Linked DNA regions of Homo sapiens. Each later gene encodes a partner of the first gene's protein in a complex. Each region holds a gene or a part of one and is shown in the gene's direction. Other genes may lie near its edges. The genes, in order: RHEB and MTOR.

Region 1 (15,757 bases):
TGGGAGATGGAGTTTCCGACACGTCATCGCGCGGCTGTGCAGGAGCTGTCCAATCGGCGCTCGGGGAGAATGGCGTAATTAAAAAGCGGCGGAAGAAGGTGGGAGGGTCATGACGCAGCGAGTTTCAGTCGTGACTTTTCTGGGGGCATCGCGGCGTCCCCTTTTTTTGCCTTTAAAGTAAAACGTCGCCCCGACGCACCCCCCGCGTATTTCGGGGGGCGGAGGCGGCGGGCCACGGCGCGAAGAGGGGCGGTGCTGACGCCGGCCGGTCACGTGGGCGTGTTGTGGGGGGGAGGGGCGCCGCCGCGCGGTCGGTTCCGGGCGGTTGGGAGCGCGCGAGCTAGCGAGCGAGAGGCAGCCGCGCCCGCCGCCGCCCCTGCTCTGTATGCCGCTCTCTCCCGGCGCGGCCGCCGCCGATCACAGCAGCAGGAGCCACCGCCGCCGCGGTTGATGTGGTTGGGCCGGGGCTGAGGAGGCCGCCAAGATGCCGCAGTCCAAGTCCCGGAAGATCGCGATCCTGGGCTACCGGTCTGTGGGTGAGTGGCCGGTGGCCGCGCGGCCTCCTCGCGCCGCCGGGGCCTCGCCTGGGAGCCGGGTCGCGGCCGGGCCTGCGAAGTTTGGAGCCGGCGCGGCCATGTGGCGGGGCGGGCGGGGGCCGCGCGTTTCGTAACCACCATTCTGAGCGGAGGTGGTGGCGGTCGGGGCGGCGTCCGCGCCGGTGGAGGAGCCGCGGTAGCTGGGCGCCCTCCGCGGGCCGGGCGGGCAGGTGGCGGCCGGGCGGAGGGCGTGGGAGGCGCGGGGCGGGGGCCGTCGGCCGCCGAGGAGTCCGGGTCTCGTCTGGGGAAGTGAGGCGGCGCCGGGGAGCCGCGCTAGAGGCTGCCGCGAGGGAGTCACACCTGCCTCCCCGCCTTCGCCGCGGGCGCGCGTGACCGGGGCTGGCGGTCTCCCCCACCCCGCCCCCGATGTAAGGAAAAGAAAGTCCGTGGGATTTTAACAAAGGAAGCAGCGCCTCGGCTTCATTCCATCTGTGGTGAAGTTTACCCTTGTAAAGAAAACTAGGGATTTAGAGGACGTTTGGGCACTGAACGCAAGTTTTCTGCATAGGAAACCTAGGCGATCCCCCAAAAGAGGTCCCTCTGGAGGCCCTCGAGATGCTGCTGGCGGCCTGGGTAGGAAGACAGAGAAAAAGGAATGTCTGATCTCTCGGTGCCCTATTTTTGTTCGGGAAGGAATAAGGTCAGGTACTTGCAACCAGGCTGTTGAAGTAATTCCAAAGTCTTTTTGTTTTCTTTTTCTTCCCCCAAAAGGTTGACATACATTTGAAACAGTTCCTAGCAGTCGCCTTATTGCTGAATAAGGTGGCTTAGGGTCGGGTTGGGGGGCGGACGGGGTGTTACAGAACGAGCGGTTTTCTGGCCTGTGTGAAACCAGAGCGATTGAACTTAGACACGCTTCAGGGTGAGGCTGTATTGTCTCCCGACATCCGGAAGCCTGGAGAAATTAGTTCATCTTTTCGGGCTGTTTTGAAGTAACTGTCTATAGAAGGCGTGCACCGGGCCACAGTTGAGGGGATGGGGAGGTGAAAGCGAGGGTTCCGAGGCTCCCGTGATTGCGGAACGGGGTGACTATCTGTCATGGGAAGCTTGTACCTGCCTGCCGCTCACTGGATGCACTCCCCAACTGCGCTTTCCACCGCCTGTGCCAGGGTCTGTGCTCTTTGACCAAGATCAGCCACTGCATGCTTACTCATCCTTTTACCACCTCTCCGTCGAGAGCCGGGGGGAAATTAAGGGCTGAAAGAAGCTTGGCTAGAGATGCGGGGTGCCTAGAGTCGTAGGGGAACTCTTGTGCGATGCGGTGCTGAATCCGAGGGGATGCATAGGTGGCAGCTTTAACAGCTGCAGCCAGGAAGTAACCATGAATCAAATGGAGGGGTTCAAAGTCACTAATTGTTCAAATATCAACATGGAACCTGGGATCCAGCCTTTATTGGCAGCCTGAATCCATGCTCTTGTCTCTGTTCTCTTGATTTCCTCCTCTGCATTTTGAGGAGTTGGGACCGCGAGGTGTTCTGGCTCTTGGGTGAGCCTTCCCTAGTCAGTCAAGTAAGTACTTATTGGCAACTATTTGGAAATAGTAGTCCCTGAATAATCACGTTATAGGCAACAAGTACCTCGGCTACCTGATTTCAACCCAAGAGAATGACCTAAAGATCTTGACTGATTTACCCTTTTCAAATGTCGAAATGGTAGCTCTAGTCTTTGGTGAGCAGGGCTAGTTTTATCACTTTTTTTTTTTTTTTTTTGGCTACAGAAGTTCCTTATGTCCAGTTGAAATCCATTCTGTTTTATCTTCCCTCTATTCAGCGTCCTCCTGAGGACGGAGATGTGACAGGCCACCCCTTAGCCTTGTCCTCACAAACTGTTGCTTGTTAAATACTGTGCTAACTTAGTCTCCGGTGGGATACAGGGTCACTTTTAGTCCCTATTTTCTGTCTTCAGTATTTCATATTTCTGCAACCTACCCCACTTCTCCATATTTATTTTCAAGCGTAGTCATATTAAACGATTTTGGAGAGGTTAAGTTGCTCCCAATCTTGTATTTGATTTTTTTTTTTTTTTTTTTCCGAGACGGAGTTTCGCTCTTGTGACCCAGGCTGGAGTGCAATGGCGCGATCTCGGCTCACTGCATCCTCCACGCCCCGGACTCAAGCGATTCTCCTGCCTCAGCCTCCAGAGTAGCTGGCACTACAGGCGTGCACCACTATGCCCGGCTAATTTTGTATTTTTAGTAGAGACGGGTTTCACCACTTGGCCAAACGTCAGGCTTGTCTCAAACGCCTGACCTCAGGTGGTCCTCCCACCTTGGCCTCCCAAAGTGCTGGGATTATAGGCGTGAGCCACCATGCCCAGCCGCATTTGATTTTAAAGTGTATTATGAGCCAGGATATTTTGTAGTATGTGGGGTCTTTTTTAGGGGAAGGAGATTAGGTTTTGCCAGCAGGTTTCTTCTAGTAAGCCACCCTTTTGAGAATTACTCAGCATGCTCACTTCTGGGAGCTTACTGGCATGTTTGCTTGCAAATGGTGGTGCTGTACCAGAGAAATTTGAGTACCTGTGTTTCTAGATTGTGGTATTTTGTGATGCTGAGCTGTTTGTCCTATATTCTGGGGGTAGAGCCACATAAAAAGCCTCCACACCTTTCTTAGAATGTTCTCTTGATTAAATACATTAAGCCAGTTTGACTAGTAGGATACTTGTCATTGTGATTTGTCATGCCACAAACTTTATTTTTAAAGTTGTCTTCAGATAAAACAAAAAAGTGCTATGTTTGTTTAACTAGTTGGCTTTCTTTTTTTTTTTTTTTTTTTTTTGTGACAGAGTCTCACTCTATCACCCAGGCTGGAGTGCAGTGGCGGGATCTGGGCTCACTGCAACCTCTGCTGCCCAGGTTCAACCGATTCTCCTGCCTCAGCCTCCCAAGTAGCTGGGATAACAGGCGCCTGCCACCCCGCCCAGCTAATTTTTGTATTTTTAGTAGAGACTGGGTTTCACCATCTTGGCCAGGATGGTCTTGAACTCCTGACCTCGTGATCCACCTGCCTCGGCCTCCCTAAGTGCTGGGATTACAGGCATGAGTCACTGCACCCAGCCCACTACTTGGCTTTCCGTTTTCTTTTTTTCTTTTTTTTTGAGTGTTGTCAGAACTACCAATAGGTAAAATATAATTCTCAGGTAGTCTATACAATTCTCCCTGCCAGTCCCCTGTACTTTTCCTGGTATTTACAATGTTAAAGCTTTTAAGGACACGTCACCTATAACTCTGGGAGTCTGGCTTTCAGGGAGTGCTTTGTATTAACTGTTGCCGTGATGGCCAAAAGTACCAGCTCCCTGACATTCCGTTATTTCTACCACAACGGAGTAGTCCCGCGATAGGAAGTAACTCAACTTAAAATGGTAGTGTTACGTAAACTGTCTTCAGCCTGGTACATCTTTCACTGGGATTTTACCTGTACAGAGAGCTTTGGTAACCTAGTTTACCATTAGACCATAATTAAAAGCTGGTTGTCATATATAAGCCTCTTACATACAGTTAATAAGAGGGATGGGATCACAGGCATGTGAAAGATCATAGGGGGAAAATGAAACAGCTTTGTGGTTTGGAAGAAGGCAATTCAGCAAAAGTACTCAAATTATTACTTTGTCAAAATGTTTAGGTAGTATTTAGAGTCTTCATGAGGAAAGATGTCATTAAATATTTGGTTGTTCCCAGCAGATTCTGACTTACTGTTTATTTTTTAAGTTAACCTATCATTTGTTGACACTTTTTATTGAAAAATTGAAAGGCAAAACAATATTTGCTATGTATGACATCTACCAGTATGTGAAATTGTATATTCAGGTGCTTAATATTCTGATGTTGTATACTTGTGGGTGGGGGTAGTCCTGAAGTGCCCACTTTGTATTGAAACTTGAAATTACTGTTTTTCAGTCTCATTCATTGTTCTGCACAAGAGCATAATCAGAATTCAGATTTCTGATTATGGCTTTCCAGTGCCAAATGTTATTTTGCTGTCCATATGGGTTATATCTCTCTGTACTTCATCACCCCAAAAAGAAACTCTGTACTCATTAGCAGTCACTCTCCATCCTGCTTCCCTGTCAGCCCCTGGCAACCACTAATCTTTCTGTTTCTATGAATTTACTTACTCTGGACATTTCATATAAATAAGAACATACATATGTGGTCTTCTGGGGCTGGCGTCTTTTACTTAGTATAATGTTTTCAAGGTTCGTTCATGTTGTAGCATATGTCGCTTCTTCCTGTTTAGTGCTGACTAATATTCTGTCATGTGAGTATACCACATTTTTTCTATGCATTTGTCAATTGGATATGTGGGTGGTTTCTTTTCTTTCTTTTTTTTTTTGGCTATTATTTTTTATTTATTTACTTTTCTGAGGCAGGGTCTTGCTCTGTTGCCCAGGCTGGAGTGCAGTGGAGCTATCATGGCTCACTGCAGTGTCAACCTCCTGGACTCAAGTGATCCTCCTGCCTCAGCTTCCCGAGTAGCTAGGACTGCAGGTGTGCGCCATCACACCCAGCTAGTTTTTTTATTTTTTTGTAGAGGTGGGAACCTTGCTTTGTTGCCCAAGCTGGTCTTGAACTCTTGACCTCAAGCAATCCTCTGGTCTCAGTCTCCCAGTGTTGGGATTACAGGTGTGAGACACCACTTGGAGCTCTACTTTCTGGCTACTATGAATAATAATGTTTTGAACATTCCTGTACAAGCTTTTATGTAGACATGTTTTCATTTCTCTTGGGTACATTCCTAGGAGTGGAATTGCTGGGTCATTATGGTTAACTCTGTGCTTAATATTTTGAAGAACTGTCAGATTTTTTCCAGAACAGCTGCACAATTTTATATTCCCATCAGCAATGTATGAGGGTTTAATTTTCTCCACATTCTCGTCAACAATTGTTACACTGCCTTTTTCATTTTAGCCATCCTATTGGGTGTGAAGTGGTATCATAGGATTTGCAAATAATTTCTCCTGTCTGTGGGTTGTCCTTTTACCTTCTCGATGGTGTCCTTCAAAGCAGAAAGTTTTTAATTTGAAGGCCGATATATCTATTTTTCTCCTGCCACTTATGCTTTTGGTGTCACATCTTAGAAGCCATTGCCTAATCCAAGGTCATATAGATTTACTACTATATTTTCTTCTAGATATTTTATCCTGTTAACTCTTACATTAGATCTGTGATCTATTTGTGGTTAATATTTGTATATGATGTGAGGGAGGGATAGAACTTTATACTTTTGCATGTGGATATCAAGTTGCCCTAGCTTCTTTTGTTAAAATAATGTTCTTTCTTCATTGAATTCCCTTGTCCGAGATGAAGTGACCGTCAATAGAAGAACTCACTCATTCCATTGATCTGTATGTCTGTCCTGCCAGTACCATACGATCTTGATTACTGTAGTTTTGTAGCTGGTTTTTAAATAGGGGCATATGAGTCCTCTAACTTTATTATTTCTGAAGATGTTTTTGGGTATTCTCAGTCCCTTGCATTTCCATATTGAATTTTAGGACTAGATTGCCAGTTTCTGCCAAAAAAGCAACTGCAATTTTGATAAGGTGTTTCACGGTTTTGCAGGTATCTTTTAATGTCTTAACAGCTGGATTCTCATCTCTGCTCCTGAATTCATTCCCTTAACGTTATTTTAATGAAGTAAGGAGTACTTGAATAGTTTTTCAGGTAGTTGAATATTCTTTGATACCGAAACTTCATAAGTGATAGTTTGCAAAGAATAGTTACACTATGCAATCTGAAATCATATTGATGAATTTGCCCAACTCCGCAGGTCTGCTTTATACTTGGAATGGATCTTCTACCATGCCTGGTTTTGTAGCGTTACTGGTCATTTGGAAAATATTTGTTCATCGTTACGCAGATCTTCCACATGTTGACACATTTTATTATACAAGCATTTTTAAAAATCACATTTGTTAATATCACCACCAATCTCTGCAAAGTCTTAAGTTTTAGAACACTGTTCGCTATGAGTGGTGCAAGTTTTCCAAAATTCTAATTTCCTCCTTGAGTTCAAATAATTTCCTTGGCAACATGCTACCAGTTTTTACTTGAATTGACTGTTTTGTTTCTTTAATTTCCAAGAAAATGTCTGCCAGCTATTCACATTTGCAATAATGATAGTTTGTCATCATTCTTGCAAGTAAAAAAGGCATTCCATGATAAAAGTGGCCAGTTCAGATCACTTCTCAAATGACTGCACAAGTGCTTTTTTTGGAAACAACCATCATACTTCAGTATGTAACAGAGGTGCTTTATGTGTACATCTCATTTTGTCGTGCAGAATATTAAAAAGACAGGTACCAAAGGGTCAAGATTTAATATAATTTTACTGCTTTTTCAAGGACACTGTTAAGTAGAAACAGCTCTTTTCCCACTGTGAATGCATGGTAGTAAAGAATACAGTGACTTACCACTCAGTTTGTAACTACTGTTTTTGATTCATGCCAAGGGGTGCCGAGCTAGCAGTTTTCCCTACCATTGCTTTTGCACCCTTAGTACAAATGGGAACTTTGTGGAAAAGGCAAATGATAACTTAATATTGCTATGAATATCGTTTTGACCTCATGAGACCCCTGAAAAGATTTTGGTAAACCCCTTAGAGGTCCACAGACCACCCTTTGAGAACCATTAAACTGTTGTAAGCTAGGATCTTGTTCACTGCTGTGCAAAATCGAATTGACAGTGACTGCATCCTAAATGCTGTTCACAGCGATATGGTTCCCACAGTGTTAGAAGAGCCTCCTAGGAGAGGCCCTGTAGCGTTGTGAGAGACAAAGATGGCAAGGCAGGAAAGAACTTGGCGTGGTTAGAATGGAAGGAAGCACGAGGGAGGCCAGAGAACATCAGGAGAGTTATGATATCTGTGTGCCTATTGGTTTGGCCTCTGATTGTGTTGCATTTTTGGATGAGTTGTGTTTGGACCTGGTGATGGCGAGGCTCCCAGAGAGTAGTGAAAATTGCAAAGAGTAGCAGGATACCAGAGACCCATATACTAATAATATAGTTTTTAAATACGAGTATCAGGATGAAGGTGGGGAGGAGTACACAAGTAAAAATAGCAACTTTATCACAGAATGAGACACTGCCACCTCTACCTGTGATTGTGGAAGGTCAGAGATGCACAATGCTTTTCTTGGGTGAAGATTCAGAATAACAAGTTCGCAAACAACTGTAATAGTGTCCATGGCTGGATTGTTCTTAGTTACTTGAATAAATCAGAACTGAACTTGCACATGATTGTGCAAGTGAGAGTATTATGAAATCTTTAGGGATCATACTTGAAGGAACCTTCATTCTTAGTTCTAATTTATTCTGAAGTACCAAATGAAATCTTAACATTGATACAGTACTCACGGTCTATCTTCGTCACGTCATTCTTGCTAACTGTGAGAATGCAAACTGCTGAGTCCTTTTAACATGAATTGCTGGATTGATTTTTAAATATAATCAGCTGTGCGCAGTGGCTCTCGCCTATAATTCCAGCACTTTGGGAGGCCAAGGCGAGTGGATCACCTGAGGTCAGGAGTTCGAGACCAGCCTGGCCAACCTGGCGAAACCCTGTCTCTACTAAAAATACAAAAATTAGCTGGGCGTGGTGGTGGGCGCCTGTAATCCCAGCTACTAGGGAGGCTGAGGCCTGCAGGAGAATCACTTGAACCCGAAGGGGGAGGTTGCAGTGAGTCGAGATCGCGCCACTGGGCGACAGAGCAAGACTCCATCTCAAAAAAAAAAAAAGAAATCTAACATTTTAAAGGTTCTGGAATACTATTTTAGTATTTTAATTTTCTTCAATATATGTTGGGCTTCTGGTTATTAAAAAAAAAAAAGGAGTTCCTGTAGGATTGGAGCTTTAAATCTAAACTGGTATTAGTTTAGAACAGGAAGTGCTAGAAAAGCCTTTACGTTGTGCTCTTATGGGCAAGTTAAGAAAGCAGGGCAGTTTAAAGATAGTGATAGAATTCACTCCGAAGTGTCATGCTTGCTTGGTTTGCGTCTTATCTGTAGTAGAATTGAGTCTTTCTCTCCCGCATTTCTCTTTTTGTTGTGCTTACATGTTTGCAGAAGGACTCCTCATGGACATTTGAAAGAGAAGTTGGTGTTTTAGCAAGATACACCATCCCACCTTTTGCAGGATTGAGAGTTGAATGTTAATAACTACCTGATGGCATAGTACATAATTTGTGAATGGGGATGCAAATATGGGCTTTTACAGTTAATACAGTTTTATGAGATGAAATGCTTTTCTAAGACTTCTGTGTCTTAGATATAAATGTGTCTGCCTATTTTGCTAGCTTTATTTTTTTTTTTATTTTTTATTTTTTGAGACGGAGTCTCACTGTGTCATCCAGGCTGCAGTGCAATGTCGCGATCTCGGCACACTGCAGCTTCAACCTTCCAGCCTCAAGGATCCTCCCGCCTCAGCCTCCCGAGCAGCTGGGACTATGGGTGTGTGCCACCATGCCCTGGCTATTTTTTTATTTTTTTGTAGACATGAGGTCTTACTTGTTGCCTCGACTGGTCTCGAAGTCCTGGACTCAAGCGATCCAGCCACCTCAGCCTCCCAGAGTTCTGGGATCACAGGCTGAGCCACTGCACCTGTATTTTGCTGGCTTTAAAATCTCAATCACATTTGGCATTTGTTTGAAAGAGAACATTTGGGCCAGGCCCCCAAAGATTGAATCACTGCAACTGTTGGTTGAAGAGGACAGTTTGTGAGTGTTATGTGTTATTCAAATTAGGTGTTCATTAAGCATTTGAATAAATGCTCTACTTTGTACCAGTCACAAAAGCTAGGACAGTTATAATCCTTGCCCTCAAGGAGCTTCAGTCTAGTTGAGAGCCACAGGAACTTGTTCCTGCTACTGAGAATAATAATTGTTGGTGCTTTTGAAGCATTTACTGTTATGGGGTACAATCTTAATGCACATGTATTAATAGCCTTTAAACTCGGGTAGGTGCAGTTGTTACACCTATTTTGCAGATAAGGAAACTGAAGTACAAAAAGTTTATGTGACTTGCCCAATGTCAAACTGTTGTTAAGTGACAAAGCCAGGATTTTGAACTCAGGCAGTGGCTCCAGAGCAGGCAGTCTTTAATCAGCTACTACACGATTGTTACTTAAATACAGTTGGGATAGGTGTTTGAGAGAAATAATCAAAGGCAGGGCTAACTTGATCATCAAGTGGGGATGGGGGTGGTGGGAGAATTGTCTTTAAAGGAAAGGCAGTGTGGCTCACTGAGTGAATGAGAAGGGTGAGGTGTGAGTAATGAGAGAGGTCGGGACTCATGTGTTTGCCAACTGTCCTTCAAGAACAGTTTTGTCTGCTCTGTGAAAAGTTTTAGACTTTTTCCTAGAAACTGTGGGAAGTGACTGAAGGGTTTTAAGCAACAAATAAGACGATGATCTATACCAGGGACTGGCAGACTTGTTCTGTAAAAGGCCAGATAGTAAATATCTCAAGCTTTGCAGGGCAGGCCATGTAGCCTCTCTTGCAGCTATTCTACTTTGCCTTTGTAGGACGGAAGCAGCCACAGACAATACATCAACGAGTGGGTGTGGCTGTGTGCTAGTAAAACTTTATTTATGGATATAACACTTGAACTTCATCTGATTTTCAGTATCATGAAATACTGTTTCTTTTTCCAACCACTTAAAGATGAAAAAAACATTTTTAGCTCATAGACTGTACAAAACCAAAACAGGCTGTAGGCCAAATTTGGCCCCTGGTCTGTAGTGTGCTGATCCTGGCTTCCATCCTCCTGCTGTTCTGTGAAGTGGGAGGGGTGGTAAGGGAGTAGAAATGGGAAGACCAGCCAAGGCGCAGAGTAGATGAGATGAAGAGGACGCACATGGGAGATTTCCTTAGAGGGAGAATGGGCAAGACCAATGTGGAAGCTGTGAAGTAGCCTTCAGATTTCTCATGTGAGTGCCTGAGTAGGTCATGTTGCCATTGGCTAAAATCAGAAATGATGGAACAGGAGCAAGTTTAAGGGGTGGACCAGATTTATTTATGCACCTGCCAGATCCACACACTTTCCTTGCTTTCTGGCCACAGAGGCCCTAGCGACCACCCACACAGGGCACAGTTCCCATGGTCCCGAAGACAGGTGGCTGTGCCTACAAGTAGGGTTCTGAGGGTTTGCTGGCCCTGGGTCCTTGTGTCACCCAAGGATTTGACCAAGCATACCCTCACACCGCAGGATTGTTGCCCCAGAGACAAATGAGGTTGCTGGGCCCGGGTGGCCCCACACGCTCACGTTGCCCACTCAGGCAGGCAGTGTCTTACTACAAGGATGTTTGTCATTCCTGCTTGCTGGGAGGGGGAGTTGGACTCTTTCTCTAGATCTTTTCATTCTGCATAAGAGTGCTACAAAAATGTGTGAATATGTTTTATAATAATAAATTGCTTTCTTAATCTAACCATGTTTCTGTATGAGCAGTGTCCTAAAAAATTGAGCTGTACACAAAATGAGCCTACCTTCCAATTTTTTTAGACTTCTATGGAAGTATTTCTGGAGCACAAATTTAGGGAGCTAAATTTATACAAATAATATGATCCTATTCCCTTAAACAAGGGTACAGAGCAGCCTTGCCCAATGGAAACAATCTGGCCTGGTGCAGTGGCTCACGCCTAGAATCCCAGCACTTTGGGACCCAAGGTGAGAGGACCACTTGAGCTCAGGAGCTCCAGAACAACCTGGGCAACACAGCGAAACCCTGTCTCTACAAAAGTGGGAGGCTGAGGTCTCAAAAAAAAAAAAAAACTAAAAATATAACCTAATGTAATTTTAGATTTTTCCAGTAGGCATATTAAGTAAAAAGAAATAAGTGAAATTAATATACTTAATTTAGCTCAGTATGTCCAAAATGTTATTTCAACATGTGATGGATATTGTTGATATTTGTACATTTGTCATACTTACACTGTGACACATCTCAGTCGGAACTGAGCACATTTCAGGTACTTACTGTCCATGTATGGCTACTGGCTGCCATATTAGACAGCCCAGATACTGTGAGGAGTGAATTGGTGTTGATAATGAGGTCAGCGCAGATTTTAAGAACTTTTGAAGAAATTATCTTTATAAAATATGAATGGTTTTAACCATTCAGGCTGACGGATGAGTATACTCTATTTCATATCTCATTTTCCTCATACTGTGTTATTACTAGTTTTGATCATTCTTAAATTTCATGTTCTTTAATATGTTAAGAAATAGAGAATTTTTGTCTTTGCTTTTCTCTAGCTCTTTCCCACCCTCACCTGTATCCCAGGTCTTCTCTCCAGATTGGCCACCGTTCTAGGAAAACTCATTCTTCATTGTTGCTAAACATTTAATTTCCTGCAGTTTATCAGGGCTATTATTGTTGCCTTCCACCTCAGCTTTGTCTTTAAACCATCCTGTAGAGATGAATATCCTGTTTTGAAAATCTCCAGGGAAACAGTTTTATGGCCTTTCTGGGTAGCACTTTATTTTTCTTTAGTTTAATAATCCTGTTAATAAAATTCTTCATTTATGAAACTGAGTCCTTCATGTTATATAATTAAACGTATTTCTTATTTTCCTCAGTGGTATATATCTGGTAGCATAATAATTGGCAATAGGGTTACCTATAAGTATTTGAAAGGGTATTTTTATGAACTAGTTTTACTTTTTCTGCCTTGTCTTTGTCATAATAATAATAATTGCAGTTTAATTTTTTCTTTTTTTTAAAATCTCCCAGCATCTATTTTTAAAATTGGGGAAGGGGTGTGAGAAAGAACAACATGATGTCAACCCTGCTTAGCTCACAGGAACAAGCGAGATAATTCATGTGAGAATGTTCCGTAAACTCTAACGGTGTCTCACTTTTTAGGTTCTGTACAATAATTAAGATGTGTATGTTCTGCATCACACACTCTCATCTGACTCTATATGACGGACATGTGGGGATTGGTATTCCAATTAGAATCGTAAACATCTTTTCAAAACACTTCCTTAGTGACACTATATATATGTGTGTGTGTAATATACATAGACACACACAATACAACACATATCACCCCTCCCTCTCGAAAAAGCAACAACCACCAATCCTGCCATAGGGGGAGCTACACATTTCTTACTAGAGTGGGTGCATACGATTGTTAAGCATATGATTGGCATTGTGTGTCATGTAAGGAACACATAGAAACCTTTATGCGGTTCATTGTTTTTCCAGCCTTTTAACAGTGGTGATTCAGGTTTCATTCCATTTATAAGCCAGGTGAGTCTGCAGTCTTTTTTCTGCCGTTTACAAACCAAGTCTGCTTTACTGGTGTCTGTTCTATTGTTAGTCCCCAACGAGGCACTCTCCTGGTATTCCTGTGCTTGCCCTGTGACTGTCTTGAGCCTGCAGAATGCAGCAGAGATGGTGATGTGCCAGTTCCAGGCTTTAAGCCCTAAGAAGTTGGCAGCTTCTGCTTTTGTGTTCTTGGGAGCCTCAAGTGATGTGCAGTAGATGTTAGGAGGAGACACAGAGAAAGGGAGAATGCCCCGCCTTCCCAGCTGTGTAGCACCACCAGCCCACCAGATAAAGGCCCCCCAAAGAGTAAACTAAAAGTGAGCCCAGCGTTGACTGTAGAACCATGAGCACATGAAATGGGTGGTGTCAGTCACTCAGCTGTGGGTAAATGAAACAGTAATTTTCTGCTTTAGGGGTATATGTATGTTTGTTATTTTGCTTGTGTTATTTTGAGGCTTTAGTTGAAATAGTTACTGTATGTCATCTTTCAGGTTAATTTATTAGATATAATTCCGAAAATACTTTTTTTATCCTAAGCGGATTATTTCTGCCTAAGAGCAGTTACTAATAGTATTACTAATATTAATAATAATGAGATTTGCTGAGCACTTGCTACATGCCAGATGTTTGGTATACATTTTCATTTAATCCTCACAAAGCACGTTATAGGATAGGTACCATTATGATGTCCATTTACAGATAAGGAAAAGGACTCAGGAAAACTGCCCAAAGTCACATAGCTAATAACCACCATCTCATACTGTTTAGTAAAAAGTAGTAAATGGGCTGGGCATGGTGACACACACCTGTAATCCCAGTGCTTTGAGAGACCAAGGTGAGAGGATCATTTGAGACCAGCAGTTTGAATACAGTGAGCTATGATCCTGCCATTGTACTCCAGCCTGGGCAACAGATAGAGACCCTGTCTCAAAAAAAAAAAAAAAAGTAAATGCATTATCTTTTAAAAAAAATCTTTTTTTCCTAAATCAAGTTTATTGAGGTGTAATTTACATATAATAAAGTATCCATTTTAAGTGTAGAGTTGGATGAGTTTTGACAGATTTATGCACCTATGTAACCTCTGCCTTTATCAAAATATGAAACATTCCGTCATCCCCACAAGTTCTCTCATGTCCCTCACGCCCTACCCCAGCTCCCCGGGAAGCACTGATCTGCTCTCCATCACTCTGGGTTAGTTTTTCTTACCCTAAAATTTCACATACATCGAATCATACAATATATACTCATTTTTGTATGTCAGTTAGCATAATGTTTTTGAGATTCATCCATGGTGTTGCATGTATAATTTCTTTTTATTGCAAAGTGGTATTCTGTTGAATGGATATACCTTAATTTGTTTATCTGATCACCCATTGGTGGATATTTGGGTTATCCCAGTATTTAACTATTAAGAATAAAGCTATTATGAGCATTTTGAGTAAATGTCTTCGTGGACACACAGTCATTTCTCTTTGGTAAATACCTAGGTGTGATATTGCTGAGTCACATATATGTTAAGTGTATACTTTAGGAGAAACTACCAAACTGTTTTTCCAAAACATTTTGACCATTTTATGCCTCCACTAGCAGCACATGAGAGCTTTGGTTGCTGCCTGCCCATCCTCCCTGATACTTGGTATTGGCGGCCTTTCTAACTTTCTAGCTATTCTCAGATGGTAGGTTGTGGTTTTATTTGAAATTTCCCACTAAGAATGGTGGACATCTTTTCATATACCTACTGGAAATTTGGATATCTTGGTTTGTGAAGTGTCTGTTCAAGTCTTTTGCCTAGATTATCAGATTCTTCTTACTGAATTATATATTCTGAATAAAAGTCCTTTTTCAGATGTGTATTTAATGAATATTTTCTCCTAGTGTGACTTTTTTGTTGTTCCTGTGTTTCAGAGAACAGAAGAAGTTTGTAAGTTTGATGAAACTCGGTTCACTTTTTCGTTTTTTTTTTTGTTTTGTTTATTTTGTATCGTGTCAGGAATCTGTCTACCTGAAGATCATAAAGTTGTTTTTTTTTTTGTTTTCACTTTTAAGCTCTGTTGGACTTGAGAAAGTTTTGTTTTTTGGGTTTTTTTTTTCATATTCTAGAAGTTTTGTAGTTTTAGCTTTTATGTTTAGGTCTCTGATCCATTTCTAGTTAGTTTTTATGTATGAGGTAAGGGTGAAGATTTTTTAAAAAACTTGAGGTCCCACACCTGTAAAAAGAAAGGAAAAATAACATTTAAAACTTTGAGAAAATTTCTTTTTTTTTTTTGAGGTAGCATTCAACAGGTTTTGGCAAGTCTGCAGTCATCTACATCCAGAATCAGGCTGTAGAACAATCCATCAACCCAAAAAGCGCCCTGTGCCTGTTTCTAGTTAGCCCCCTACCCCTTTGTGGTTTTTATCCTATAGTTTTGTCTTTATCAGGATGCCCAATAAATGGAACCATATATTATGCAGCTTTTTGCGTCTGGCTACTTAGCACAACACATTTGAGATTTATTCATGTGTACATATACCAGTATTTAATTCCTTTGTATTGCTTAATAGGACAGTTGACCCTTAATCAACACAGTTGGAACTGTGTGGGCCCACTTATAGGCAGGAATTTTTTTTTCCTCAACCAAATGCAAATGGAAAATACAGTATTCCTTGGATGCAAAGCCCACATGTATGGAGGGCCGACTTTTCATATATGCAGATTCTGCAGGGTGAAAAGCAGGGCTTCATCACACTCGGATTTTGCTATCCTCAAGCATCCTGGAACCAGTCCCCCTTGTATACCAAGGGATGCCTGTATCCCTTTGGGTGGATTTTTTCCCCCCACTTAAATTGCATGTTTTATTTCCCCCAATCCCAGCAATAGCACAGAAGCCCCATCATATCCAACCCAAACTGGTT
Region 2 (15,274 bases), on another chromosome or scaffold:
GTAGGAGGCATAACTTAAAGTGGTAATGGCTACTGAACATGAAGGAAGTAAATCTAGTTTTCTCGTGGTTCTTGACAGTGATAGTTTTGCAAAGGTGCTATTACTGCTAGCTTATCACCTGATAAGCATTTAATTGAACTTCAAATACTTGGTCTAGAAATATTTACTGAGCACCAAGCAGCTAATATGTTTTTTATTTACTGTTTCACACATGGAGTGGGTACCTGAAGCTCTGAGATTTTTATCAAACTATCTGATTTTAATCTATCTGTAAAAACACAGTTTAAAGTATGTCTGAATATCAGCTCACTAATGGTGTCTGGGTTGGAATAATTATTAACAGTATTACCTTGGTCCTCAAGCATTGATAATAGCTCAGAAATGGGAAGATGGAAGCAGCAGAAATTTATTTGCGTTGCTGGGAGGAACCCTGGAACCACATGGAACAGTGTTTCTAGGAGCGCGACTCACAGAGCAGGGGTCTAGAAGACTTGTGTCCCTCTGAGAGCCAGAGTCCTTTTTGTGTGTGGAAACCTCTCAGGAGTGTTTGAGTCAAGCTGTTTAACTTTTATTTTATTTGTATTAGTTTCCAGCACACACAGCATTGAAGTTACTGGTTTTGGGGGGTTTTTTTGTTTGTTTGTTTGTTTGTTTTTGAGTAAAATTGTTTAACTTTGTTTAGCCCTCCCCTCTTCCCCGCACTCCCCATCCCACCCCTTTTTTCCTTCGTGACATTTAGCAACACCCTACATAGTTCATACTTTGGGAATTACTGTTAGGGTGTAAAAAAGTATATCTTTTCTACAAATGTTTACAGAGCACTTACAACTAGTTAATAAACTAAGCCAAATAATGTCTAGGGGTGCAAAAAGAAAATGTGAGGTACAGTGGTCGCCTGAAGAAGCACAGAAAGCATTACAGAATTGACCATAACCTGCGTGAAATAGTCAGAGAGCAGGAGACTCTGCCGTGGAGCCTGCGGGTGCTTTCGTGTGGAGTAGGGCTGTGGAGATTCAGAAAAGGGGACTTCACTGTGAACCGTAGCTGCGAAGAGAGCACTTGGGTTGGTGGCATCTAACCATCACTTCACCTGACAAAGGGTAATTTTTCTTTCTTTTTTTTTTTTTTTTCTTGAGACAGAGTCTCGCTTTGTCACCCAGGCTGGAGTATGGTGGCGCAGTCTCGGCTCGCTGCAACCTCTGCCTCCCGAGTTCAAGCAATTCTCCTGCCTCAGTCTCCCAAGTAGCTGGGATTACAGACGCATGCCACCATGCTCAGCTAATTTTTTTGAATTTTTAGTAGAGATAGGGTTTCACCACGTTGGCCAGGCTGGTTTCGAACTCCTGACCTCAAGTGATCTGCCCGCCTCGGCCTCCCAAAGTGCTGGGATTACAGGCATGAGCCACCCCACCTTGCCAAAGGGTAATTTATCCTTATTGGATGGGTGGAATCTGATGGGTAGAAAGGAAAAGGGTGTTTCAGGCAAGAAATTGGGATACTGGCTTATAATGTCATACATGGACACTGTGACAGGATTTGTGAATGCCTGAATCACCAGGCTCATAGGACACACAGTCTCTGGGGGAGCTTATACTGGTGGCTGGTCTCAAACGAAGTGTGCTGAGACTTACTGGCTTCATTCTCAGGGCCCACCTCCCTAACAATTCTCAAGTGGCTACTATATGCTGTCTGTAGCATACAGAAGGGAACTAGGACAGCCAGTTCTGCTGGCACCAGATGGTGGTGGATTTGGTTGTTTAGCTTAAAAGTTAAATTCCAGCTGGGTGTTGTGGTGCACACCTGTAAGCCCAGGAGGAGCACTTGAGCCCAGGAGTTTGAGACTAGCCTGGGCAACACAGCAAGACCCTGTCTCAAAAAAAAGAACTTCCAATGGATCATTAATAGAAGTATAACTATCACCCGGGTGCGGTGGTTCATGCCTATAATCCCAGTACTTTGGGAGGCCCAGGCAGGCGGATCACCTGAGGTCAAGAGTTTGAGACCAGCTTGACCGACATGGAGAAACCCCATCTGTACTAAAAATACAAAATAAGCCAGGCATGGTAGCGCATGCCTGTAATCCCAGCTACTCGGGAGGCAGGAGAATCTCTTGAACCTGAGAGGCAGAGGTTGCAGTGAGCCGATATCATGCCACTGCACTCCAGCCTGGGCAACAAGAGCGAAACTCCGTCTCAAAAAAAAAAGAAGTATAATTATCACTACCTTCATTCAGAAGGTCTGTGATGTACAAGGACAGCATTCAAAAAACTTCATAATTCTGATTTCAGACTCTTCTCTGCTAAAAGCCATAATCAGTGGAGGGTGAACCTAACACCTGAGGACTTTTTCTACCCAGAGCTGATATGAAAATTCCTCCAAGGAATAACATTTCAACCTTGTGTGTGACACATTCCGAAGTTAATTTTCTTTATCAGTTTTTGTCCAAACACATTTTGTCACGAGGCTTTTGACCTGTTCTTATTCCTATGAGTTTATTTTGTTAATGCAATTTGCCTGAAAATCCATGTTTCAATTCTGATAAGCACCAAATTTTTTCAATAATTATTAACTCACATTTGAAAATGGCTTTACAGATTTAAAAATTTTTTTTTTTTTTTTTGCAAATGGAGTCTCAGGCTGGTCTTGAACTCAGCTACTCAAGTGATCCTTCCACCTCAGCCTCTTGAGTAGCTGAGATTACAGCTATGTCCAGCTTAAAACTTTGAAATACATAAAGAGTAACATAAAACTTTCCTTCTCTTTTCCCCTTTAGGGTAGGTAGGGCAGGCGTTAAAGGAATAGAGTGCGTAGAGAATTAGATGCTAACACCAACAGTGGCTTTTTGGTGTTTGAATTTTCTGTTAATTGATTTCTTTTCCCATAGAAATTTTGGACGGTGTGGAACTTGGAGAGCCAGCCCATAAGAAAACGGGGACCACAGTGCCAGAATCTATTCATTCTTTCAGTAAGTTCAGCCTCTGAGGAACCGCACCAGTGACTAGCTCATTAAGAAAATAGCAGCTGTGTTATACCCTGAGAGGGGTCAACAAGATGAAGCAACAAAACTGCCTTTGAGCAGAAAAGGTTCCATGAATTTCTCATTATATTCTGAGGACAAAGACGGACATAGAGGAAGGATTGCTTAACACTTACAAAAGTGAATATTTGAGAAAAACAGGGCACCCATTGAACCTGTTGTATTGCTCCCATTCTTACAGTTATTTCTACTTTTGTGTATTCCAGTTGGAGACGGTTTGGTGAAACCAGAGGCCCTAAATAAGAAAGCTATCCAGATTATTAACAGGGTTCGAGATAAGCTCACTGGTGAGTGTGTCATGTGTTTACTTAAAAGGGACATAAAATCTGAGCACACTTTCCTCTCTGAGTGGTGGTCAGCCCCATGTCCAGTGGTGTTAGTGACGAGCTTTGGCACCATGCAGCTGACAAAGAGTGTCTTTGAGGTCATCAGTTAAACATTGTCTCTGATTCTTCTTTCTGATGACTGATAACAGTACTTAATGTTAGTTTAATCTCATTTAACTCAGGAGGTGAATAAATTTCTTTTGGGTCCAAAATCAGCCAAATTCAGAGAAGTGTTTTTTAATCATGTCTTTTTTTTGTTTGTTTGAGACAGTTTTGCTCTTATTGCCCAGTCTGGAGTTCAGTGGCTCCATCTTGGCTCACTGCAACCTCTGCCTCCCAGGTTCAAACAATTCTCCTGCCTCAGCCTCCCGAGTAGCTGGGATTACAGGTGCACGCCCAGCTAATTTTTTGTGTTTTTAGTAGAGATGGGGTTTCACCATGTTGGGCAGGCTGGTCTCAAACTCCTGACCTCAAGTGATTCACCCACCGCACCCGGCCGAATTTTTCTTTTTTTCTTTTCTTTTTTTTTTTTTTTTTTGAGACAGGGTCTTGCTCTGTCACCCAGGCTGGAGTGCAGTGGTGCGATCTTGGCCCACTGCAACCTCCACCTTCCAGGTTCAAGTGATTCTCCTGCCTCAGGCTCCCAAGTAGCTGGGACTACAGGCATGTGCCACCACACTCGGCTAATTTTGTATTTTTAGTAAAGACAGGGTTTCACCATGTTGGCCAGGCTGGTGTTGAACTCCTGACCTCAGGTGATCTGCCTGCCTCAGCCTCCTAAAGTGCTGGGATTACAGGCGTGAGCCACCGCACCTGGCCAAACTTTTCAAATCCAACTATGATGGTATCCTTCATCTTCATGTCTGACGATAAGCTGTTGGCATAGACAGTTAAGCCCACAGGGAACAAGAAGTGCATCGATTGCCAGGAAGAGAGTGAAATGTTTTTGTTCCTCCTGTGCTAGGTCGGGACTTCTCTCATGATGACACTTTGGATGTTCCAACGCAAGTTGAGCTGCTCATCAAACAAGCGACATCCCATGAAAACCTCTGCCAGTGCTATATTGGCTGGTGAGTGGGGCTCTCAAAGTGACTTTGTTAAAATAAGCAATCAGGTCCCAAGCCTAGGCCCCAAAGCCAGAGTAGCAAAAAGAGATTTGGTGAGGTATCTGTAAAGGGCAGTTAGAGCTCAGATCTCTTTAAAAATTCATATTTACTGCATGTGCCCATTGTTATAAAAAAAGAAACTGAGAAATATGGATGCATACTTGGAAGGCAAACACTAAAATTAAAATTACATTAAGATAAGTGGTTCAGGAGAATAGGCAAGGCTTGTTTGTTTGTGAGGGGTTCCTTTTGGGTTTTGCTGTCAGTCCAGTGCAGAGATACAGGAAGGGCGAAGGAAAGAAAAAGCTAGAGCAGTGACAGAGAGAAGGAGATAAAAAGACAGATTTATGATCTGGGAGTCTAACCTCAAGGGCCACTCTGGGGTGTGCTTTGATTAATTGCCCAAGGCATGCTTGAAGGCAGAAACTTGAGAGAGCGGGCGCTGGGGAAGTGTCCTTGCGGGACCTCGGTGGGCATTAGCCTTGACTGGAAATGATGAGTGTGTCCCATGCAATTAGCTGTGGGAGAGCTCAGGGAATACCCTAGGGTTGTCAGACCTTGGCCTTTTCATTTTCAAGTTATCTGTGTAAACCTTTGAAGAAGCTCAAATTATTAAAATATTCCTTTTCTTTCTGCCTTCTTAGGTGCCCTTTCTGGTAACTGGAGGCCCAGATGTGCCCATCACGTTTTTTCTGAGGCTTTTGTACTTTAGTAAATGCTTCCACTAAACTGAAACCATGGTGAGAAAGTTTGACTTTGTTAAATATTTTGAAATGTAAATGAAAAGAACTACTGTATATTAAAAGTTGGTTTGAACCAACTTTCTAGCTGCTGTTGAAGAATATATTGTCAGAAACACAAGGCTTGATTTGGTTCCCAGGACAGTGAAACATAGTAATACCACGTAAATCAAGCCATTCATTTTGGGGAACAGAAGATCCATAACTTTAGAAATACGGGTTTTGACTTAACTCACAAGAGAACTCATCATAAGTACTTGCTGATGGAAGAATGACCTAGTTGCTCCTCTCAACATGGGTACAGCAAACTCAGCACAGCCAAGAAGCCTCAGGTCGTGGAGAACATGGATTAGGATCCTAGACTGTAAAGACACAGAAGATGCTGACCTCACCCCTGCCACCTATCCCAAGACCTCACTGGTCTGTGGACAGCAGCAGAAATGTTTGCAAGATAGGCCAAAATGAGTACAAAAGGTCTGTCTTCCATCAGACCCAGTGATGCTGCGACTCACACGCTTCAATTCAAGACCTGACCGCTAGTAGGGAGGTTTATTCAGATCGCTGGCAGCCTCGGCTGAGCAGATGCACAGAGGGGATCACTGTGCAGTGGGACCACCCTCACTGGCCTTCTGCAGCAGGGTTCTGGGATGTTTTCAGTGGTCAAAATACTCTGTTTAGAGCAAGGGCTCAGAAAACAGAAATACTGTCATGGAGGTGCTGAACACAGGGAAGGTCTGGTACATATTGGAAATTATGAGCAGAACAAATACTCAACTAAATGCACAAAGTATAAAGTGTAGCCATGTCTAGACACCATGTTGTATCAGAATAATTTTTGTGCCAATAAATGACATCAGAATTTTAAACATATGTATATGAGTGGCGTTTTAGTCATAATTTTGATCAGTTCAAAAAGGAAGCATTTACTCTCTTCAGCACTCAGCCTTCAGTAAACACTCTGTAGTAGGGATGACAGAGGACGTAAGGGTGTACGTGACATGGTCCCTTTCCTCAGACTGTTCCCAGGCCAGACAGGTGGAGACAGCATGCCACTGAAGTGAACAGAACTTACCCCGGCCAAGTGCTGAGAAGAGGCATGTATGGGCCACAGGTAGGAGCGTGTATTCCACCGGGTGAGCCTGGAAAGCCCCATAGAAAGGGGGACATTTGGCATGGGTCTTAAAGAGGGGTGGGAGTCTGTCAGATGAACCAAGGGGGGGGCATTCTCAGCAGAAAAGGAAGTGTGAGGCACTGCTGTAAAAGCAAGGTATCCATAGCAGTGGCAAGTATCAGTTGGACCATTTGAAATCACAGGTACGTGGACCATTTTTAATATACAAAACTGGCATTTTCTTATGGCTGCACCTCATAGTTCAGCATGTCTGGCTCAGTGGTCAGTGGGGAATAAAGGGAGTAACAGGAAAATAATAGGAACTAAAGGAGGCAGGAAAGCAGTACGGGGCCGGGGCCAGACCGGGGCCTCCCTCAGTTCAGCAGCAAGGAGTATGAACCTGATGCTGTGAAGTTTTAAAACGGAGTAGTATCTGAGTGGTGTTTTTTGTTTTTGTTTTTGTTGGAGACTGGGTCTCGCTCTGTCACCCAGGCTGAACTGCAGTGGCACAGTCATGGCTCACTGCAGCCTCGGCCCCCTGGGCTCAGGTGATCTTCCCGCCTCAGCCTCCCAATTAGCTGGGACTGCAGATGAGCACCCCCACCGCCAACTAATATTTGTATATTGGGGGAAATTCACCCCCGATATTTCACATAGGTTCTTTTCTATATTCCCTAAGTGTCAGCCGGTCTGAGAAAAGGGACAGAGTACAAAAGAGAAATTTTAAAGCTGGGTGTCCAGAGGAGACATCACATGTTGGCAGGTTCCATGATGCCCCCCTGAGCCATAAAACCAGCAAGTTTTTATTAGTGATTTTCAAAAGGGGAGGGAGTGTACGAATAGGGTGTGGGTCACAGAGATCACGTGCTTCACAAGGTAATAGAATATCACAAGGCAGTGGAGGCAGGGCAAGATCACAGGACCGGGGCAAAATTAATATTGCTAACGAAGTTTTGGGCACGCTTTGTCATTGATAACATCTTATCAGGAGACAGGGTTTGAGAGCAGACAACCAGTCTGACCAAAATTTATTAGGCGGGAATTTCCTCGTCCTAATAAGCCTGGGAGTGCTATGGGAGACTGGGGCTTATTTCATCCCTACAGCTTTCACCATAAAAGACGGCCGCCCCCGAAGCAGCCATTTCAGAGGCCTACCCTCAGGGATGCATTCTCTTTCTCAGGGATGTTCCTTGCTGAGAAAAATAATTTAGCGATATTTCTCCCATTTGCTTTTGAAAGAAGAGAAATATGGCTCTGTTGTGCCCAGCTCACCGGCGGTCAGAGTTTAAGGTTATCTCTCTCGTTCCCTGAACATTGCTGTTATTCTGTTCTTTTTTCAAGGTGCCCAGATTTCATATTGTTCAAACACACATGCTCTACAAACAATTTGTGCAGTTAATGCAATCATCACAGGGTCCTGAGGCAACATACATCCTCATCAGCTTATGAAGATGACGGGATTAAGAGATTAAAGTAAAGACAGGCATAGGAAATCACAAGGGTATTGATTGGGGAAGTGACAAGTGTCCATGAAATCTTCATAATTTATGTTCAGAGATTGCAGTAAAGACAGGCGTAAGAAATTATAAAAGTATTAATTTGGGGAACTAATAAATGTCCATGAAATCTTCACAATTTATGTTATTCTGTCATGGCTTCAGCCAGTCCCTCCATTCAGGGTTCCTGACTTCCCGCAACATTTTTTGTAGACAATGGGGTTTTGCCATCTTTCCCAGGCTGGTCTTGAACTCCTGGACTCAAGCAATCTGCCCCCCTCAGCCTCCCAGAGAAGCCACTGTGCCCAGCCCTGAGTGGTGTTTTTAAAAGGCAACTGGTGGCCAGGTGCAGTGGCTCACACCTGTAATCCCAGCACTTTGGGAGGCTGAGGCAGGTGGATCACCTGAGGTCAGGAGTTGGAGAGCAGCCTGGCCAACGTGGCCAAACCCCGTCTCTGCTAAAAATACAAAAGTTAGCCAGGTGTGGTGGCATACACCTGTAATCCCAGCTACTGGGGAGGCTGAGGCAGGAGAATTGCCTGAACCTGGGAGGCGGAGGTTGCAGTGAGACAAGATTGCACCACTATGCTCCAGCCTGGGCAACAGCAAGACTCCGTTTCAAAAAAAAAAAGGCCGGGCATGGTGGCAGGCGCCTGTAATCCCAGCTACTCAGGAGGCTAAGGCAGGAGAATCACTTGAACCGGGCAGCAAAGGTTGCAGTGAGCCGAGATCGCACCACTGCACTCCAGCCTGGGTGACAGAGCAAGACTGTTTCCAAAAAAAAAGGTGAATTTAAATCTCAATGGTGATACTAATAACAGTTCTAACACTCACAGCTAGAAAGTCACATACCTACTTGGATTTTCTGTTACAGTCCTAAACCATGTATCACCTATTTGCTCCAGAAAATATGGTCACCATAACTTTCCTGGCTCCAGATGAAATAACTCTCAGTGACTACAGTGATGTTACTATTCATGAACGATAAAGGTGTGAGAATGATAAAGGCAGGAAAATGGTGGCCATCAGTGATAAAGATATATTCTTTAGGATATAAGAGTCTGGATTAAGGTCTTTGGTGAATCCGATAGGTTTTAAGTTATATCTAAGCAAAGCCTTCTGGGTGTGTTGAGACAAATTATCAAAGGCAGAGGAGGAGCTAGTGGAGGCCTTTAAATACAGTTTAGTCCAGCCAGGCACGGCAGCTCATGCCCGTAACCCCAACACTTTGAGAAGCTAAGGTGAGAGGATTGCTTGAATCTAGGAGTTTGAGACCAGCCTGGGAAACATAGTGAGACCCTGCCTCTACAAAAAATAAAAAAATTCGTTGGGCATGGTGGCATGGGCCCAGTCTACCCTGGATGCTGAGGCCAGAGGATTGTTTGAGCCCAGGAGTTCAAGCTTACAGTAAGCTATGATTGTGCCACTGCACTCCAGCCTGGATGACAGAGACCCTATCTCTAAAAATAAATACATAAACAAGGATGAAGATCTTTATGATGATCCACTTAATGAATAGTAAATATATTTTCCTTAAAATTTTCGTAATTTATTGTAAGAATACAATACATACACACAATATGTGTCAGTTGACCGTTTGTTATCGGTAAGGCCTTTGGTCAACAGGAGGCTATTAGTTAAGTTTTGGGGGAGTTAAAAGCTATATGTGGATTTTCGACTGCTCAAAGGGATGGGAGCCCCTAATCACCAGATGTTGTTAACAGGTTAACTATTTTTTTCTTTTTTTTTTTTTTTTTTTTTTTTTTTTGGAGACAAGGTCTGGCACTATCACCCGGGCTGGGGGGCAGTGGTGCAATCTCAGCTTACTGCAACCTCCACCTCCCGGGCACGAGTTATCCTCCCACCTCAGCCTCCTGAGTAGCTGGGACTACAGGTGCATGCCATCACACTCGGCTAATTTTTGTATTTTCTGTAGAGACTGATTCTTGCCATGTTGTCCAGGCTGATCTCAAACTGGTGAGCTCAGGCCATCCTCCCACCTCAGCCTCCCAAAGTGCTAAGATTACATGTGTGAGCCACTGCGCCCAGCCAGTTGTATTTTTTAAGAATCAAGGCTGAGGCCGGGCATGGTGGCTTATGCCTATAATCCCAGCACTTTGGGAGGCCGAGGCGGGTGGATCACGAGGTCAGGAGTTTGAGACTAGCCTTGCCCACATGGTGAAACCCCATCTCTTACTTAAAAATGCAAAATTAGCTGGGCGTGGTGGTGCACGCCTGTAATCCCAGCTACTCAGGAGGCTGAGGCAGGAGAATCACTTGAACCCGGGAGGCAGAGGTTGCAGTGAGCCAAGATCATGCCATTGCACTCCAGCCTGGGCAATAGAGTGAGACTTCATCTCAAAAAAAAAAAAAAAAAAGAATCAAGGCTGTAGTGTCAACTTACTAAGTTTCAAATATCAACTGCATCTCATAGTACCTTTGTGACCTTGGATAAGTTACGTAGATTCTCTCTGCTTGTCTCCTCTGAAAGTGTGGGTAAGCCCTACCTTGTGAGGCTGTCTGAAAGACAAGATAATCCATGGAGGAGCATTTAGCACAGCCTGACTGACATGTGGTATTAGGTTGAACCACGTGAAATAGGTCCTCAAAAATACTAAATGAACTAGGCGTTTGTCCTGCCAGAGTACCTGTGTACCTGAAGCACACACACGGAAAAAGTGAAAAGCAAGTATTCTCTTAACTGGATATGCTGAACATTTATTGAAGACTTAATGGGTGGAATGAATTGTATTAAGGGCATCCCATCTCTAATTTCAGGAGAGTGAATCTATCTCTTGAGCTGCCTGATAATTCGGTGCCTCCCTCACAAGAGCTCTTCCAGGAGTTCACTTCACAAATGTGTACTGAGTTCCCACTCTGTGTTAACCAGAATGGTTCCAGCGATGTCTGCAGGAAACAACGTCTGCTTGGAGGAGTTCAGAGGGTACTGGAGGGAGGAAGCACAGTTGGAGCTAGACGCTTTCTTCAGGAGCTTACCTGTAAAGGGCAAGAGAGAGATGATGGCAGTTGGAAGGAGATGTGGGAGCCAGTGTTTTTTCCTTTTCTCTTTTAGTTGGGAAAGATGTCAGTGTACTTGTAGGCTGTTAGGAATGAACCAATAGAGAGGGAAAAGATAGATCCAGGGGGCAGGGGAGGTGTAATTAATTACAGGAGTCAAGACCAAATGGGTGAGGGGAACACAGAACCAGCCAGAGCTTGGGAGGAGGTGACTTTAAATATGAGGCTGGGCCGGGCACAGTGGTTCCTGCCTGTAATCCCAGTGAGGTGGGAGGACGGCTTCAGCCCAGGAGTTCGAGACCAGGTTGGTAAGATGCAGTCTAAAAAAAATAAGCCAGGCGCTGGTGGCGCACACCTGTAATCCCAGCACTTCGGGAGGCCAAAGCAGGTGGATCACTTGAGGTCAGGAGTTCAAGACCAGCCTGGCCAACATGGTGAAACCCCATCTCTACTAAAAATACAAAAAAAAAAAAAAAATTAGCCGGGCATTGTGGCACACGCCTGTAATCCCAGCTACTTGAACCTAGGAAGCGGAGGTTGCAGTGAGCTGAGATTGCACCACTGCACTCCAGCCTGGGCAGCAGAGTGAGACTCTGTCTCAAAAAAAAAAAATAAACAGGGCAGGCACGGTGGCTCCGCCTGTAATCCCAGCACTCTGGGAGGTCGAGGCGGGAGGATCACAAGGTGAGGAGTTCGAGACCAGCCTGGCCAATATGGTGAAACCCCGTTTCTACTAAAAATACGAAAAAAATTAGCCGAGCGTGGTGGTGCACGCCTGTAATCCCAGCTACTCGGGAGGCTGAGGCAAGAGAATTCGTTGAACCCGGGAGGCGGGAGGTTGCAGTGAGCCAAGATTGCGTCACTGCACTCCAGCCTGGGCAACAGAGTGAGACTCCATCTCAAAAAAAATAAAAATAAAAATAGGCTGCACGCTGATGACTCGTATCTGTAATCCCAGCACTTTGGGAGAGCAAGAGTGAAACTTTGTCCCAAAAACATGGTTTTTTTTGTTTGTTTGTGACAAGGTCTCACTCTGTTGCCCAGGCTGGAATGCAGTGGTTCGATCTCGGCTCACTGTAACCTCCACCTCCCGGGCTCAAGCCTCAGCCTCCCGAGTAGCTGGGATTACAGGCATGTGCCACCACGCCCGACTAATTTTTGTGTTTTTAGTATAGACAGAGTTTCACCATGTTGGCCAGGCTGGTCTCCAACTCCCGACCTCAGGTGATCCACCCGCCTCGGCCTCCTAAAGTGCTGGGATTACAGGTGTGAGTCACGGCGCCCAGCCTCAAAAACATAACCTTAAAAAGAAATTTTTGAGACAGGGTTTCATCCTGTCACCCCGGCTGGAGTGCAGTGGAGCCTCCACCTCCTCGGCTCAAGCAACCATCCCACCTCAGCCTCCCGAGCAGCTGGGACTACAGATGCGCACCACCACTCCCGGTAATCCCGGTTTGTTTGTTTTTTAAATTTTTAAATAAACACGAGGATAAGCGGGGATCGTGGCCCTCGCCTGGGGTCCCTGCTACTTCGCAGGCTAAGGTGGGAGGATCTCTTGAGCCCAAGAGTTCGAAACCAGATTGGGCAAACCTCGTGTCAAAAATATATGTGATAGTCAGGTCCTCCAGGCCGCACCCTAGATCACAGGGTTGTTGGGATGATACAATATGAGGTAAAAGAACGTGAAATTCACACCAGAGCGCTCGAAAGTGCCACCCTAATCGCAGGCTTCCCAACCTAATCGCAGGCTTCCCAACCTAATCGCAGGTGCCCCACCCTAAACGCAGGCTTCCCAACCTAATCGCAGGCGCCCCACCCCAATCGCAGGCTCCCCACACTATAATCAGACGCCCCGCCCGCCGCTTCGACCTGGCGCATGCGTGGTGCGCACGCGTCCCGTCTCCTCGGCCGACAAGCTCTCGCGAGACGAGCCGTGCAGGCTGAAAAAATGGCGCCACCCAGTACCCGGGAGCCCAGGGTCCTGTCGGCGACCAGCGCAACCAAATCCGACGGAGAGATGGTGCTGCCAGGCTTCCCGGACGCCGACAGCTTTGTGAAGGTGAGTTCGCGGGGCCTCGGGGGTACCAGGAGTCGCCCGCGGCCGCCGGAAGCCGACTGGGCCCTCTGGGCAGCCAATGCCCGCCCGCCGTAGTGGAGCCCGAGCGAGGGTCGCGGGGCCCCTGTCCGCGCTGGGCGCAGACTCTCCTGCACCCTCCGGGGATGGGGCCTCGGAAACGGACACTGAGGGGCGTCCCGCTTGCGAGCCTAAGTCCATGGAGGCCCAAATGTGGAAAGCCGTCTCGCATCCTGGGAAAGGCTTCCTTGCCACCCAGACGTCCCTAGCCCTTGCGACGTCGCGCTCGCCACGCCCTAGCCACCCGACCAGCTCTCCGCAGGGGCTCGGCTTCTTCGCGCTCCCCACACTTGCCTGGAGTTGTCTCCTCCCGCGGCCAGTATGGCCCTTCTCTTCCTCTGTTTCTGAAGTCCAGTCCTACATAATTTTTAACCCTGAGTTAAATGTCACCTGTTAAAGCCCCATTGCACGTTTATTAGTAACTCCTGGAAGGTATACAGGGCGTTCACTTAAGATCTTTGTATAACTTAGCTTAAATATGAGCAAACGTACAACTAGGCTTAAGGTGTGCATAGCTCTTACAAAGCAATGAAACTAAAATAATTTGTAAATTAACCCTATAAATTTACAGAAATTCCACTAACGTTGTATCTTATCTAATTTGCTGTTAGCTAATGCTATTGATTCATTAACATGGCTCTCAATAGTTCCTGGACCACTAACTGTGGTCCTGGTTGTGTGGCGGTCATGCTCATAAGCTACCATGTTCCCCTCCGTGACTTAATTTCCCACCTCCTTTCTCTGCTTTTTTCTTGGGAAATGTTTATTCACAAAACTCACAATGACGTTTTAGGCCTTCACATGATCAGCCATCATTTATGTCACTTCACGGCTTTTTTTCGTTACCTCACAACAGTTAAAATAGAGAACCACTTGACACTAACTGAACAATAAACACAAATCCAGTTTTAGATAGTAGCTGTTATAAATTTGTCGTCCAAGGATCTAGGATAAGCTTGTATTGTTTTTAGATGCTCATCCAGATGAAAACACAAAAACAAATTCCTGTAGAAAGCTCTTGGATCTGAACTTGAGTCGTAATAATAACGCTTATGTGCCAAGAACTGTCCTAAGTGCTTTTATTAGCTTATTCATTCTGTCCTCACAAAAACTCTGTGGTGCAGGCCCTTTTTATTTTTCCTGTTTCTCAGAGGAGAACACTAAAGTCCAAATAAAGCAATCACTTGTCCAAGATCTCAGTTAATACGTAGCAGAGTCAAGATTCAACCCCAGGTATTTGTGAATATTAATCAGATTATATACGTATGTATTCTGTCTCTCAACTCTCCCAAGAATATAAGCTCCAAACTTGGTTTCCTGTTCAGTATTGTATTCTCAGGGCCTAGATTAGATTGGGGTTTGGCACTAAATGAGTGCTTTTTTTGATGGATGAAGAGTAGATACCTTGTATACGATAGATCAAAAAAATGACATACCAAATGAATGGGGATCCCTGTGTAAACATGCCATCTTTTCTTGTTTTTGACAGTTTGCTCTTGGGTCCGTGGTGGCAGTCACCAAGGCATCTGGGGGCCTACCACAGTTTGGCGATGAGTATGATTTTTACCGAAGTTTTCCTGGCTTCCAAGCATTTTGCGAAACACAGGGAGACAGGTTGCTTCAGTGGTAAGTACTGTACTTTGTTTTCTTGTGTTAGTGAAAAGAAATGAAAACAAAGAAGTAGATAAATTTTTCCTGAAATTTATTTTTCCTTAAACATTTTCTGTGGTATGAAGAGCTATAAAATGTGAAAATTGAAGCAATGGATTTTGATTAGGGAAATATTACTTGGTATATTTTTAGTTTAGCCTTTAAAAAATGTATTGACTTTTGTACTGAAAAAATATATTGACTTTTGTACAAATCTTTTTTAATTAAATGGGACGTGAACACTTAGAGCCAAGATTCTTTTTTTTTTTTGAGACGGAGTCTCGCTCTATTGCCCAGGCTGGAGTGCGGTGGCATGATCTCGGCTCACTGCAAGCTCCGCCTCCCAGGTTCACGCTATTCTCCTGCCTCAGCCTCCTGAGTAGCTGGGACTACAGGTGCCCGTCAACACGCCCAGCTAATTTTTTGTATTTTTAGTAGAGACAGGGTTTCAACATGTTAGCCAGGATGGTCTCGATCTCCTGACCTCGTGATCCACCTGCCTCGGCCTCCCAAAGTGCTGGGATTACAGGCGTGAGCCACCGCGCCTTGCCAGATCCAAGATTCTTTCCCACAACTTGTAGAGTAGCAGGTATTTTTATTTTTATTTTTATTTTTTTTGAGATGGAGTCTCGCTCCATCACCCAGGCTGGAGTGCA

What was found.
Region 2: the proteins of RHEB (region 1) and MTOR are in contact, whole or in part, in a cryo-EM structure (PDB 6BCU), measured with the Homo sapiens proteins. Residues at the interface, in NP_005605.1 of Homo sapiens: Lys5, Ser6, Arg7, Lys8, Arg15, Pro37, Ile39, Glu40, Thr42, Gln57, Ala62, Asp65, Tyr67, Ile69, Gln72, Thr73, Ser75, Ile76, Asp77, Asn79, Asp105, Met106, Val107, Gly108, Lys109, Val110, Ile112; in NP_001373429.1 of Homo sapiens: Arg62, His69, Glu73, Ala101, Thr102, Ile104, Gly105, Arg106, Asn109, Tyr110, Arg112, Asn113, Phe140, Glu143, Tyr144, Phe147, Glu154, Arg160, Thr969, Gln973, Phe977, Lys980, Glu1010, Phe1011, Gln1014, Met1018, Ser1050, Thr1051, Asn1264, Lys1293.

What each region holds. Positions count from the first base shown.
Region 1 is NC_000007.14:151,504,239-151,519,995, reverse strand, and holds the start of RHEB (GTP-binding protein Rheb), read left to right. Parts: upstream 1-100; 5' UTR 101-484; coding exon 485-536; intron 537-1,018; exon of another isoform or gene 1,019-1,236; intron 1,237-15,757. UniProt on the Homo sapiens protein: Small GTPase that acts as an allosteric activator of the canonical mTORC1 complex, an evolutionarily conserved central nutrient sensor that stimulates anabolic reactions and macromolecule biosynthesis to promote cellular biomass generation and growth.
Region 2 is NC_000001.11:11,097,340-11,112,613, reverse strand, and holds the end of MTOR (serine/threonine-protein kinase mTOR), read left to right. Parts: intron 1-2,884; coding exon 2,885-2,965; intron 2,966-3,243; coding exon 3,244-3,324; intron 3,325-4,327; coding exon 4,328-4,433; intron 4,434-5,113; coding exon 5,114-5,129; 3' UTR 5,130-6,079; downstream 6,080-15,274. Other genes in the region: EXOSC10 (exosome complex component 10), read left to right, coding at 12,783-12,893, 14,458-14,594. UniProt on the Homo sapiens protein: Serine/threonine protein kinase which is a central regulator of cellular metabolism, growth and survival in response to hormones, growth factors, nutrients, energy and stress signals.